Regions from separate parts of the Homo sapiens genome. Here region 1 is linked to region 2. The links come from fine-mapping of genetic effects on gene expression. A gene starts in region 2. The other region holds a variant in brackets. All regions are shown on one strand. Distances are from middle to middle. Region 1 overlaps ZNF653 (zinc finger protein 653). Region 2 holds the start of ELOF1 (elongation factor 1).

Evidence for each region. PIP is the estimated chance that this variant, and not a neighbour inherited with it, causes the effect. A credible set is the group of variants that fine-mapping cannot tell apart.
Region 1: its variant is the best candidate, but not a certain one, in a credible set for the expression of ELOF1 in whole blood (TOPMed, PIP 0.81).

Annotation. Positions count from the first base shown.
Region 1 is chr19:11,486,440-11,491,809 of GRCh38, forward strand. It overlaps ZNF653 (zinc finger protein 653), which reads right to left. Exons shown (of 9, transcript NM_138783.4): 4 at 853-1,464; 5 at 548-719; 6 at 330-441. Among named protein-coding and RNA genes, the nearest start is that of MIR7974, 6.5 kb to the right of the region's middle. The variant T/C (reference allele first, on the strand shown) is at 2,725.
Region 2 is chr19:11,556,548-11,561,917 of GRCh38, forward strand. It overlaps ELOF1 (elongation factor 1), which reads right to left and starts at 2,683. Exons shown (of 4, transcript NM_032377.4): 1 at 2,644-2,683. RefSeq lists an enhancer at 4,007-4,301.

The sequences.
Region 1 (5,370 bases), 70 kb before region 2:
ATCAGCCTCTGTGGGCCTGGAACAGGCAGCCCCAATTGATTCATTCCTTTGTTCCTTCACTCTTTAACTTACTAGAACAACCCTGGCTCCAGCTTGCAGGCCTGGCTTGCACTAAGTGCTTAATACATGCTCAATCAATGCATGGCATGGCACAAAGGCCTGTTGTTGCATCCTCCCATGCCAGGTCCTGGGGTGTGACAAGTCCCTGTCTTTGCCTTCAGGGACACCTCGTCAAATTTCAAGGGGCAAACTAGAGGTAGGACATCCTGGTGGTGCCATGGCCTGGGCCTTGTGGGCCTGGCCCAGGCTGCTCCGGGTGGCGGCCTCACCTGGAAGCTGCTGAGGGCCACGTAGACTTGGCTGCAGCCCTCGTATGGGCAGTGGAACATCTCGAGCAGGCCGTCAGCATCCATCACCCGCGACCGCTTGCTCCGCCGCCTCCTGGAGGGGAAGGGGCCATGACATCGGGGCTCCCGCACCAGGCAGGCTGGGGGCCTGCGGGCCGCTTCTAGCCCTCGCCCTCACCCTTGCCCGCCCCGGCACCCACTTCTCAGGCTCCTTGGGGATTTCATAGATGATGGCTGACATGTCGCTGCCGTCCAGCTCCTCCCCGTCCGCCTCTGCCTCAGGCTCTGCGCTCTCAGGCACCGTTGTTGCCAGCTCCGGGGCTACTGGCTCCTCCTTCTCCTCCTTCTTTAGCAAGCACAGGTCCTCCTTCTCTACAGGGTGGACACAGGGTGGTGTCCGCAGGGGACGAAGGCTGCCGAGGTGCCCACTTCGAGGGCCATTCCTCGCCCGGCCCCTCCCAGGCCCAACCACCCCTGGCCAGAGGCCACGACAGGTCCCCCAGACCTTTCTTGGTCTCGATGCCTGCTACTGCGGTGGCGTCCATGGTGCTAGGCTGGCTACCCTCGGGCTCTGTCTGGGTGTAGGCTGCCACACCCTCCATCATGGCACAGGGCACCTCCTCGCCCAGTCCACTGCCGGGGACACCGCTGCCTGCTGCCATGTTGAGGTGAATGCCCTCGGCCGTGAGAGCGTCGTAACCAGGGCCCGCAATGATGATCACCTGTGAGCCGGGCACCATGCCTGGCATGGGGCAGCTGGCCACCACCTCACCCAGGGCCTCCTGGGGCACGTTCTCAAAGAGGGCGCTGGGGCCCGCACCCACTTGCACAGGCACCGGCACGCACACCACTGTCTCCAGGGCTTCAGGCCCATTGCCTGCTGGGTTGGAGCACAGCGGGGTACCCTGCTCGGCCAGGCTTTCCACGTGGTGGACGTCAAAGGGAATGTGCACGCCCTCCTGAGTGATGAGCCCGCTGCTGCCCACCGGGCTGGTGGGCGTCGCTGCCGCTGCCGCTGCCGCAGCCTTGACCGGCTGGCCCTCAGGAGACTCCTCAGAGTCAGAGGCAGAGCCAGAGCTGGATGAGTCAGAGCTGCCAGCCACCAGCCCATTGCCCACTGTGGGGACAGAAGAAAGGGAGTGGTTATGATAGCTGCAGCCACTGGTATTTGTTTATTTAGTTTTTATTTTATTTTATTTATTTATTTATTTATTTTTTTGAGACAGAGTCTCACTCTGTCACCCAGGCTGGAGTGCAGTGGTGCGATCTCAGCTCACTGCAACCTTGGCATCCCCGGTTCCAGTGATTCTCCTGCCTCAGGCTCCCGAGTAGCTGGGACTACAGGTGTGCGCCACCACACCTGGCTTTTTTTTTTTTTCCTGAGATGGAGTCTCACTCTGTCACCCAGGCTGGAGTGCAGTGGCGCGATCTCTGCTCACTACAAGCTCTGCCTCCCAGGTTCATGCCATTCTCCCACCTCAGCCTCCCGAGTAGCTGGGACTACAGGCATGTGCCGCCATGCCCGGCTAATGTTTTGTATTTTTAATAGAGATAGGGGTTCACCAGGATGGTCTCGATCTCCTGACCTCGTGATCCACCCACCTCTGCCTCCCAAAGTGCTGGGATTACAGGTGTGAGCCACCGCGCCTGGCCCACACCCGGCTAATTTTTGTATTTTTAGTAGAGACGGGGTTTCATCATGTTGGCCAGGCTGGTCTCAAACTCCTGACCTCAAGTCATCTGCCCGCCTCAGCCTCCCAAAGTGTTAGAATGACAGTCATGAGCCACCGTGCCTGGCTGAATTTTTCTTTTCTTTTCTTTTTTTTTTTGAGATGGAGTCTCGCTCTGTCACACAGGCTGGAGTGCAGTGGCGCAATATTGGCTCACTGCAAGCTCCGCTTCCCAGGTTCACACCATTCTCCTGCCTCAGCCTCCCGAGTAGCTGGGACTACAGGCAACCGCCACCACGCCCAGCTAATTTTTGTATTTTTAGTAGAGATGGAGTTTCACTGTGTTAGCCAGGATGGTCTCGATCTCCTGACCTTATGATCCGCCCACCTCGGCCTCCGAAAGTGCTGGGATTACAGGCATGAGCCACCGCATCCGGCCTGAGTTTTTCTTTTTTTTTTTTGAGACAGAGTTTCGTTCTGTCACCCAGGCTGGAGTGCAATGGTGCAATCTTGGCTCACTGTAACCTCTGCCTCCTGGGTTCAAGCGATTCTCCTGCCTCAGCCTCCTGAGTAGCTGGGATTACAGGCGTGCACCACCACACCTGGCTAATTTGTGTGTTTTTAGTAGAGATGAGGTTTTGCCATGTTGGCCAGGCTAGCCTCAAACTCCTGACCTTGGGTGATCCATCCACCTCGGCTCCCCAAAG[T/C]GCTAGAATTATAGTCATGAGCCACCACATCTGGCCCGATTTTGTTTTTGTTTTGAGATGGAGTCTCCCTCTGTCACCCAGGCTGGAGTGCAGTGGTGCGATCCGGGCTCACTGCAACCTCTACCTCCCAGGTTCAAGCAACTCTTGTGCCTCAGCCTCCTGAGTAAATGGGATTACAGGTGCATGCAACCACACCTGGCTAATTTTTGTATTTTTAGTAGAGACGGGATTCCCCATTTTGGCCAGGCTGATCTCGAACTTCTGACCTCAGGTGATCTGCCCGCCCGGGCCTCCCAAAGTGCTGGAATTACAGACATGAGGCACCTCGTGTGGCCCTGATTTTCCCAAGTAGAGATCAGGTCTTGTTATGCTACCCAGGCTGTGGCCTTGAACTCCTGGGCTCCAGTGATCCTCCCACCTCAGCCTCCCAAAGTGCTGGGATTACAGGCGGGAGCCACCATGCCCGGCCAGCAGTTGGTATTTGTTGAGGGCTCTTCAGGGGCTAGACACTGTGACCCTCTCACTGCTTAAAACAGCAGTCACTTCTCAATCCCCACTGTCCCTAACTGTTCCAAGATGACTGACCCAGCTGACCACCCCTACTCCAGGGGACACTCTCCTCTCTTAGCCCCCAGACCCACGCTGTGGTATCCTGGGCCCTTCCTGGTGGCTCCTTCCAAGTTTATTTGGTTCTTGCAGGCCTGGAAGGCTTGGCCTGGGGCCTCTCCTCAGCGCTCACCTTACCCCCAGGCTTGCCCAGGCTAATGGGGTTAAAGGCCACCCTCCGATTCTCGATGCCAACTGAATGTCCAATAATTCAATCCAATCTGACATTATCTTCCCGGAGTGGGCGTCAAATCCTCCAAGTTAAAGGCTCAGTCCCACAAGACCGCCGGACTTCAGATGTCAGCTGCAAGTCCTGGGCTACCCTGTATGTCTGACCAATGGGCTCTAAATGGGGGGTTTCCATGACCCCATCCTCAGGTTTGATAATTTGTTAGAACAACTCACAGAACTCAGAAAATGGCTCTACCTACAATTACAGCTTTATTACAAAGGATTCAACTCAGCGACAGCCAAAGGGAAGAGATGCACAGGGCAAGATACGGGGGTATGGTATGGGCTTCCATGCCCTCTCCGGGGGTACCACCGTCCCAGCATCTCAATCTGGAACTGTTCACCAATCTGGGACTGTTCAAGAGGGTTTTTGTTGTTCTGTTGTTGTTGTTGTTTGTTTTTTTGAGACAGAGCCTTGCTCTGTTGTGTAAGCTGTAGTGAAGTGGCACAATCTCGGCTCACTGCAACCTCCGCCTCCCAGGTTTAAAAAATTCTCCTGCCTCAGCCTCCTGAGTAGCTGGGACTACAGGCACACGCCACCATGTCAGGCTAATTTTTTTTTTTGTATTTTTAGTAGAGATGGGTTTTCATCATGTTGGTCAGGCTGGTCTGGAACTCCTGACCTCAGGTGATCTGCCCGCCTTGGCCTCCCAAAGTGCTGGGATTACAGGTGTGAGCCACCGCGACTGGCCAAGTATGTATTCTTATTACTACAACCATCCATGGCCTGGTGATTCCATCTGCAGCTTCTGCCTACACCTCCATGTCGAGCTCCAGATTCTTCCATCTCATTGGCCCCCTAAGAGTGTCTCACAGGCATCTCAAACTCAGATCTGCAACACTGGGCTCTGTATCTTCCCTTCTACAAAGCCTGCACTGCTCACGGGTGTCCCTGACTCAGCGGAAGGCAGCTCAGTCTCTCCAGTGGCTCAGGCCAAAGTCCTGGGGCTCTTGTTGACTTCTCTCTCTCTCACACCCACTTCCAATCTGTCAGCAAAACCTGTTGGTGCTGCATCCAAAATACATCCACCCGCAGCCTGAACGCTTCTCCCACTTCCCCTGCAGATGCTAGTTGCGGCCCCACCGGCCCCCTGCCAGGGCCAGTGCAGTCCCTTCTTTTGGGTCCCCGGCTCCTAAGAACCTACTCTTTACCTCCTGTGAAAGAAGCAGGCCAGCTACTCACTAAATCCCTCTCTTCCTGGCACCAGCACCGACTACATTTCCCAGCATCTCTTGCAGGTAGGTGTGGCCATGTGGCTGAGTCCCAGCCAATGGAATGCAAGTGGACAGGTGCTCCCAAGGTTGAGTCTCCACTTTTCTCCCCACCAGTAAGCCAGGACCCACAAGGAGGCTGGAGCCATAGGAAGGAAAGAACCTGGGTCCAGGGATGAAAGGCAGTCTGCAGGATGGAAGCACCAGGCTTTGTATGTGGGAAACAAACCACTGTGCCAGGTCACGAGAGCTGGAGTGCGTCTGTTTCAGGAGGTGTTCCATCACCTCCTGTCCTCGCCTCCTCTCCTAATGTCCTTGGAGACACTAGATAGGTTCCTGCCTCAAGGCCTTTGCACCTGCCATTCCCTCGGCTTGAATCCTCTTTTTTTTTTTGAGATGGAGTCTCGCTCTGTCGCCCAGGCTGGAGTGCAGTGGCACGATCTTGGCTCACTGCAAGCTCTGCCTCCCAGGTTCACACCATTCTCCTGCCTCAGCCTCCCAAGTAGCTGGGACTACAGGTGCCGCCACCACGCCCAGCTAATTTTTAGTAGAGACAGGGTTTCACCGTGTTAGCCAGGATGGTCTCGATCTCCTGAC
Region 2 (5,370 bases):
CTCGGCCTCCCAAAGTGCTGGGATTACAGGCGTGAGCCACCACGCCCAGCCAACACCCCCAACTCTTAACTGTGATGCTTCCAGTTCACTGAGTAAATAGAAGCAATCCAAAGACAGCTCCTAGGACCAACTCATTCAGCCATTCACCCACCCTCTTTATTTATCTAAGAGATGAGGTCTTGCTCTGTTGCCCAGGCTGGAGTGCAGTGGCATGATCACAGCTTGCTAAAGCCTCAATCCTCTGGCCTCAGCCTGCTCAGTAGCTGGGACAACAGGTGTGCACCACCATGCCCAGCTTCGGCATGCCTCCTTTACTATGGAAGTAAGTTCCTGCAAAAACAATTTGTTCATTCTGCCCTGGCTCCCATCCCCTTTTCTTTGAGCAACATCAAATTTTCCAGCTCCACTGGATCACTCTCACACACTTGTTATTACCTCTCTCCTCATTTAAAAAGGGGGAAAAAAAAACTCTTCATCCTCTTCCAGCTATGATCCTTTTCTCTGCAGGCTGTTTTAGTGTACAGCCATCTGCATTCCCACCCATCTCTCTGCACCCCTTGCCTCCAAACTTAGGTTACTGGTGGCTCCATACTGCAAATCCCAATGGCAGTCCTCCCATTCCAGAGGTCCTTCCTCCCCTGAGAGCACATGTGGCTCTCAGGATGCCATGTGCTCCCTGTCCTCTGCCTCACTGGTGGCTCCTGCTAGTCTCCTATGCTCCTGCCTCTCTGCCAACTTGCTCCAATGAAGAGAGCACGTGAGTTTGGGCCAGGCGCTGTGGCTCACGTTTATAATCCCAGCACTTTGGGAGGCCAAGGTGGGCAGATCACTTGAGGTTAGGAGTTGGAGACCAGCCTGGCCAACATGGTGAAACCCCATTTCTACTAAAAATACAAAAATTAGCTGGGCGTGGTGGCACATGCCTGTAATCCCAGCTAATAGAGAGGCTGAGGCAGGAGAATCGCTTGAACCTGGGAGTCGGAGGTTTCAGTGAGCTGAGATTGTGCCACCGCACTCCAGCCTGGGCAACAGAGCAAAACTTCATCTAAAAAAAAAAAAAAAAAAGGCTGAGTGCAGTGGTTCACGCCTGTAATCCCAGCACTTTGGGAGGCCGAGGTGGGCAGATCACGAGGTCAGGAGTTCGAGACCAGCCTGACCAACATGGTGAAACCCCATCTCTACTAAAAATACAAAAATTAGCCAGGCATGGTGGTGCACGCCTGTAATCCCAGCTACTCGGGAGGCTGAGGCAGGAGAATCACTTGAACCTGGGAGGCGGAGGTTGCAGTGAGCCGAGGCACTCCAGCCTGGGCAACAGAGCAAAAAGCCCATGAGTTTAATTGTTGGATCCTCTCCTTTCTGGCTATACTCACCACATGAAGATTTCACCCAGTCTTAGGGCTTCATGCCTACTCTACACTGAGGCCACCTGCTTCTCCAGCCTTGAGTCTGAACTGCAGACTCTGATCTATCTGCCTCAGCCACACCTCCACCTGATGTCTAACTTCCACCTAAGATTAAACATATCATGTCCAAAACCAAGCCCCTGACATTGCAACCTGCTCTTCCAGTCTTCCTCATCTCAGCTAACAGCAATTCCATCTTTCCGGATAATCAAATCAGAAACCTTGGATTCATCCTCAATGTCTTTTTCCCTCACACATTCCTTATGCGATCCTCCCCCTGCCCCTCTACCTCTGAAATATAAATTAGCCGCGGCACCACGCCCAGCTAATTTTTGTATTTTTTGTAGAGACAGGGACCCACCATGTTGCCCAGCCTGGTCTGGAACTCCTGGGCTCAAGAGATACTCCCGCCTCGGCCTCCCAAAGTGCTGGCGTTACAAGCATGAGCCACCGTGCCCAGCAATAACCATTACTGAATAAATCACTCAATCAGTTTGCTTGTAACTCTATCACTTTGGGACGTCACGCCCGTAATCTCATCACTTTGGGAGGCCCAGGTGGGAAGATCGCTTGAAGCCAGGAGTTCCAGACCAGCCTGGGAAACAGAGTGAGACCCTTCATCTCTACAAAATTACAAAAATTAGCCTTGAGTCTGTAGTCCCAGCTACTCGGCAAGCTGAAGTGGGAAGCTTGCGCCCAGGAGGTCGAGGCTGCAATGAGCTATGATCGCGCCACTGCACTCCAGCCTCGGCGACACAGCAAGACTCACTCTCAAAAAAAAAAAAAAAAGTCCAAACAAAATCTACGGATGAGCCCCAGAAGCTCATTTTGCCCAGGGACTACAGTCTCCCCATCCCATGAATGGGGTCTGGCTTGCACAAGGAATGCAGAGGCCTCAGCCTGTCCTGTGACAACGTTAAGTCCAAGAGCGCCAAAAGGGGATGGCAGAGGAGTCATCCCCCGAATCTGCTGGTACCCAAGAGGTGGGGGGTTGGCTGTTCCTCCAGACTCACTAAAGCTTCGGCATCGCCTCCCGACGGCCGCCGGGAGGAGCCAGGCGTCCCGGTAGTCGCGCTTGGAAGGATGGGGTCGGGGGGAGTCAGTCTCCCCGACCGGCTTTCCCCCAAGCTCGAGGTCCCAGGAGCCTCCTCCAGGACCCCGTAAACGCACGGAGTAGAGGAACTTCCAGTCCTGCCCACCCCCAACGCCCACTCGCACGAGCCGCACCAGCACTCACCTTCTCCAGCTGCGAAAGCTCCGTTCACCCGGGAGATAGTGACTTCCGACTCCTGCCGGAAGCGGAAACCCCTCTCCTACTTTCAGGTCCCGGCCACCCCCATCCCGGACAGCCCAGCAAATAGGCCCTGCCTCCTTCGCCGCTCCTCTGAGCGCACGCGTACTCAAATAGCAGCGCTCCGACGGAGACGCAGTGCGCCTGCGCAAGAGCCGGTGCGTATTTGCCTGTACCTACGCGCGATGCCAGTACTTCTGGTCAGTTTCCAGGAGCGGCAAGTGAGGAATATGAAATAACCTTATGGCTGAATCAGGGTGAAGGGGAAGCTTGTAAGCATGGAAGACGCTCTACTCAAACTAAAAAGTTCAAGTTCTGATCCAGCAGATGAAGAGGGAGGCCTGAGAGGCTGCTGTTCTAACTCGCTCCCAGGTGACTTCCATGCTGCTGATCCGCAGACCACATTTTGAGTGCCCAGATTGTAGTAGATGAGGTTGAGTGGACAGGCTGGGGCCAGATTCCATGGAGCCTCGTGGGCCGTGTTAAGGATTTTTATTTTTTATTTTTGTTTTATTTTATTTTATTTTTTTGAGACGGAGTCTCACTTTGTCGCCCAGGCTGGAGTGCAGTGGCTCGATTTCGGCCCACTGCAACCTCCGCCTCCCAGGTTCAAGTGATTCTCCTACCTCAGCCTCCCGAGTAGCTGGGATTACAGGCGCCGGTCACCGCGCCCGGCTAATTTTTGTAGTTTTTTTTTTTTTTTTTTTTTTGAGTAGGGATGGGGTCTCACCATCTTGGCCAGGCTGGTCTTGAACTCCTGACCTCGTGATCCACCCGCCTCGGCCTCCCAAAGTGCTGGGATTACAGGCGCGATCCACCCGCCTCGGTCTCCCAAAGTGCTGGGATTACAGGCGTGAGCCACCGCGCCCGGCCAAGGACTTTTATTGGTTTTTATTTTTGGTTTTGTTTTTTTCTGAGACAGGGTTTCGCTCCGTCGCCCAGGCTGGAGTGCAGTGACGCCATATGGGCTCACTGCAACCTTAGCCTCCCGGGTTCAAGCGATCCTCCTGCCTCAGCCTCTTAAGTAGCTGTGATTACAGGTGCGCACTACCATGCCTGGCTAATTTTTGTATTTTTAGTAGAGATGGGGTTTCACCATGTTGGTCAGGCTGGTCTCGAACTCCTGACCTCAAGTGATCCATCCACCTCGGCCTCTCAAATTGTTGGGATTACAGGCATGAGCCACCACACCTGGCCTGAAAAAGATATTTCAAGATGGAGAGAGAGAGGGGTTAGCTGTGTCACGTGTCCCTGAGTTGAAGAAGATGAGGAAAGAGAATTGACAGTTGAGTTTGGCAAGGGTCTGGTCCCTGCGGACCTTGATAAGAGCTGTTGCATTAGAGTGTTCAGGAAGATAATTTGTAATGAAATGTATTTCGAATACAGATGCTCTTTGATTTACGATGGGGTTACATCCCGATAAACCTATCATAATCAAGTCAGGGGCTGTCTGTAGAGGGATCTCTAGGATATCCCCTAGGGGGCAGTGTTACCCTGGTAACCGTCAAGTGTAACCAGTAGAACTGCCCTCTTGTGAGACCCTTTTTCAGTGCTGGAGCAAACTAGAATACACACAGGATGGAATCATACTATACAGTTACCGTGCAACTTGCTATTTCCACTTAACCATCTATACACGTATACCTAACTTTTGTTTTTAGTAGCTACATGATTCATAGTGCAACTCTGCCATAGTATAATCAACGGTTATCCTACTGATGGACAATTCCTGGACTTTCCTGAGTTTTGCCACTGTGATGATGCAGTAAATGTCCCTGAATCAGTATCCTTAAGACTGGATCTTTAGTGAAGCATAGTTTTCAAAAAATGACATTTGTGAGTACAGTGTCTCACCCCAGTAACCCCAGCACTTTGGGAGGCCGAGGTGGGAGGACTGCTTGAGCCCAGGAGTTTGAGGCTAGCATGGGCAACATAGTGAAATCCTGTCTCTAAAAATAAAATAAAATAAAATAAAAAACAATAAATGATGGCCGGGTATGGTGGCTCACACCTGTAATCCCAGCACTTTTTTGTTTTTGCTTTTTTTTTTTTTTTTTTGAGACAGAGTCTTGCTCTGTGGCCCAGGCTGGAGTGCAGTGGCGTGATCTCGGCTCACTATAACCTCCACCTCCTGGATTCAAGCAATTCTCCTGCCTCAGCCTCCTGAGTACCTAGGATTACAGGTGTGCGCCAACATGCCTGGCTAATTTTTGTATTTTTAGTAAAGATGGGGTTTCACCATGTTGGCCAGGCTGGTCTTGAACTCCTGACCTCGTGATCTGCCTGCCTTGGCCTCCCAAAGTGCTGGGATTACAGGCGTGAGCCACGGCGCCTGGCCCATCCCAGCACTTTGGGAGGCCAAGACGGGTGGATAACCTGAGGTCAGGAGTTCAAGACTAGCCTGACCAACATGGTAAAACCTTGTCTCTACTAAAAATACAAAAATTAGCTGGGCATGGTGGCAGGCACCTGTAATCCCAGCTACTCAGGAGGCTGAGGCAGGAGAATCACTTGAACCCCGGGAGGCAGAGGTTGCAGTGAGCCGAGATCGCGCCACTGCACTCCAGCCTGGGCAACAAGAGTGAAACTCCATCTCAAAAAAAAAAAAAAAACAAAGACATTGAGTCACAGGATGTATATATCTTTCATTTTGTTCATGATTGCCACATTAGT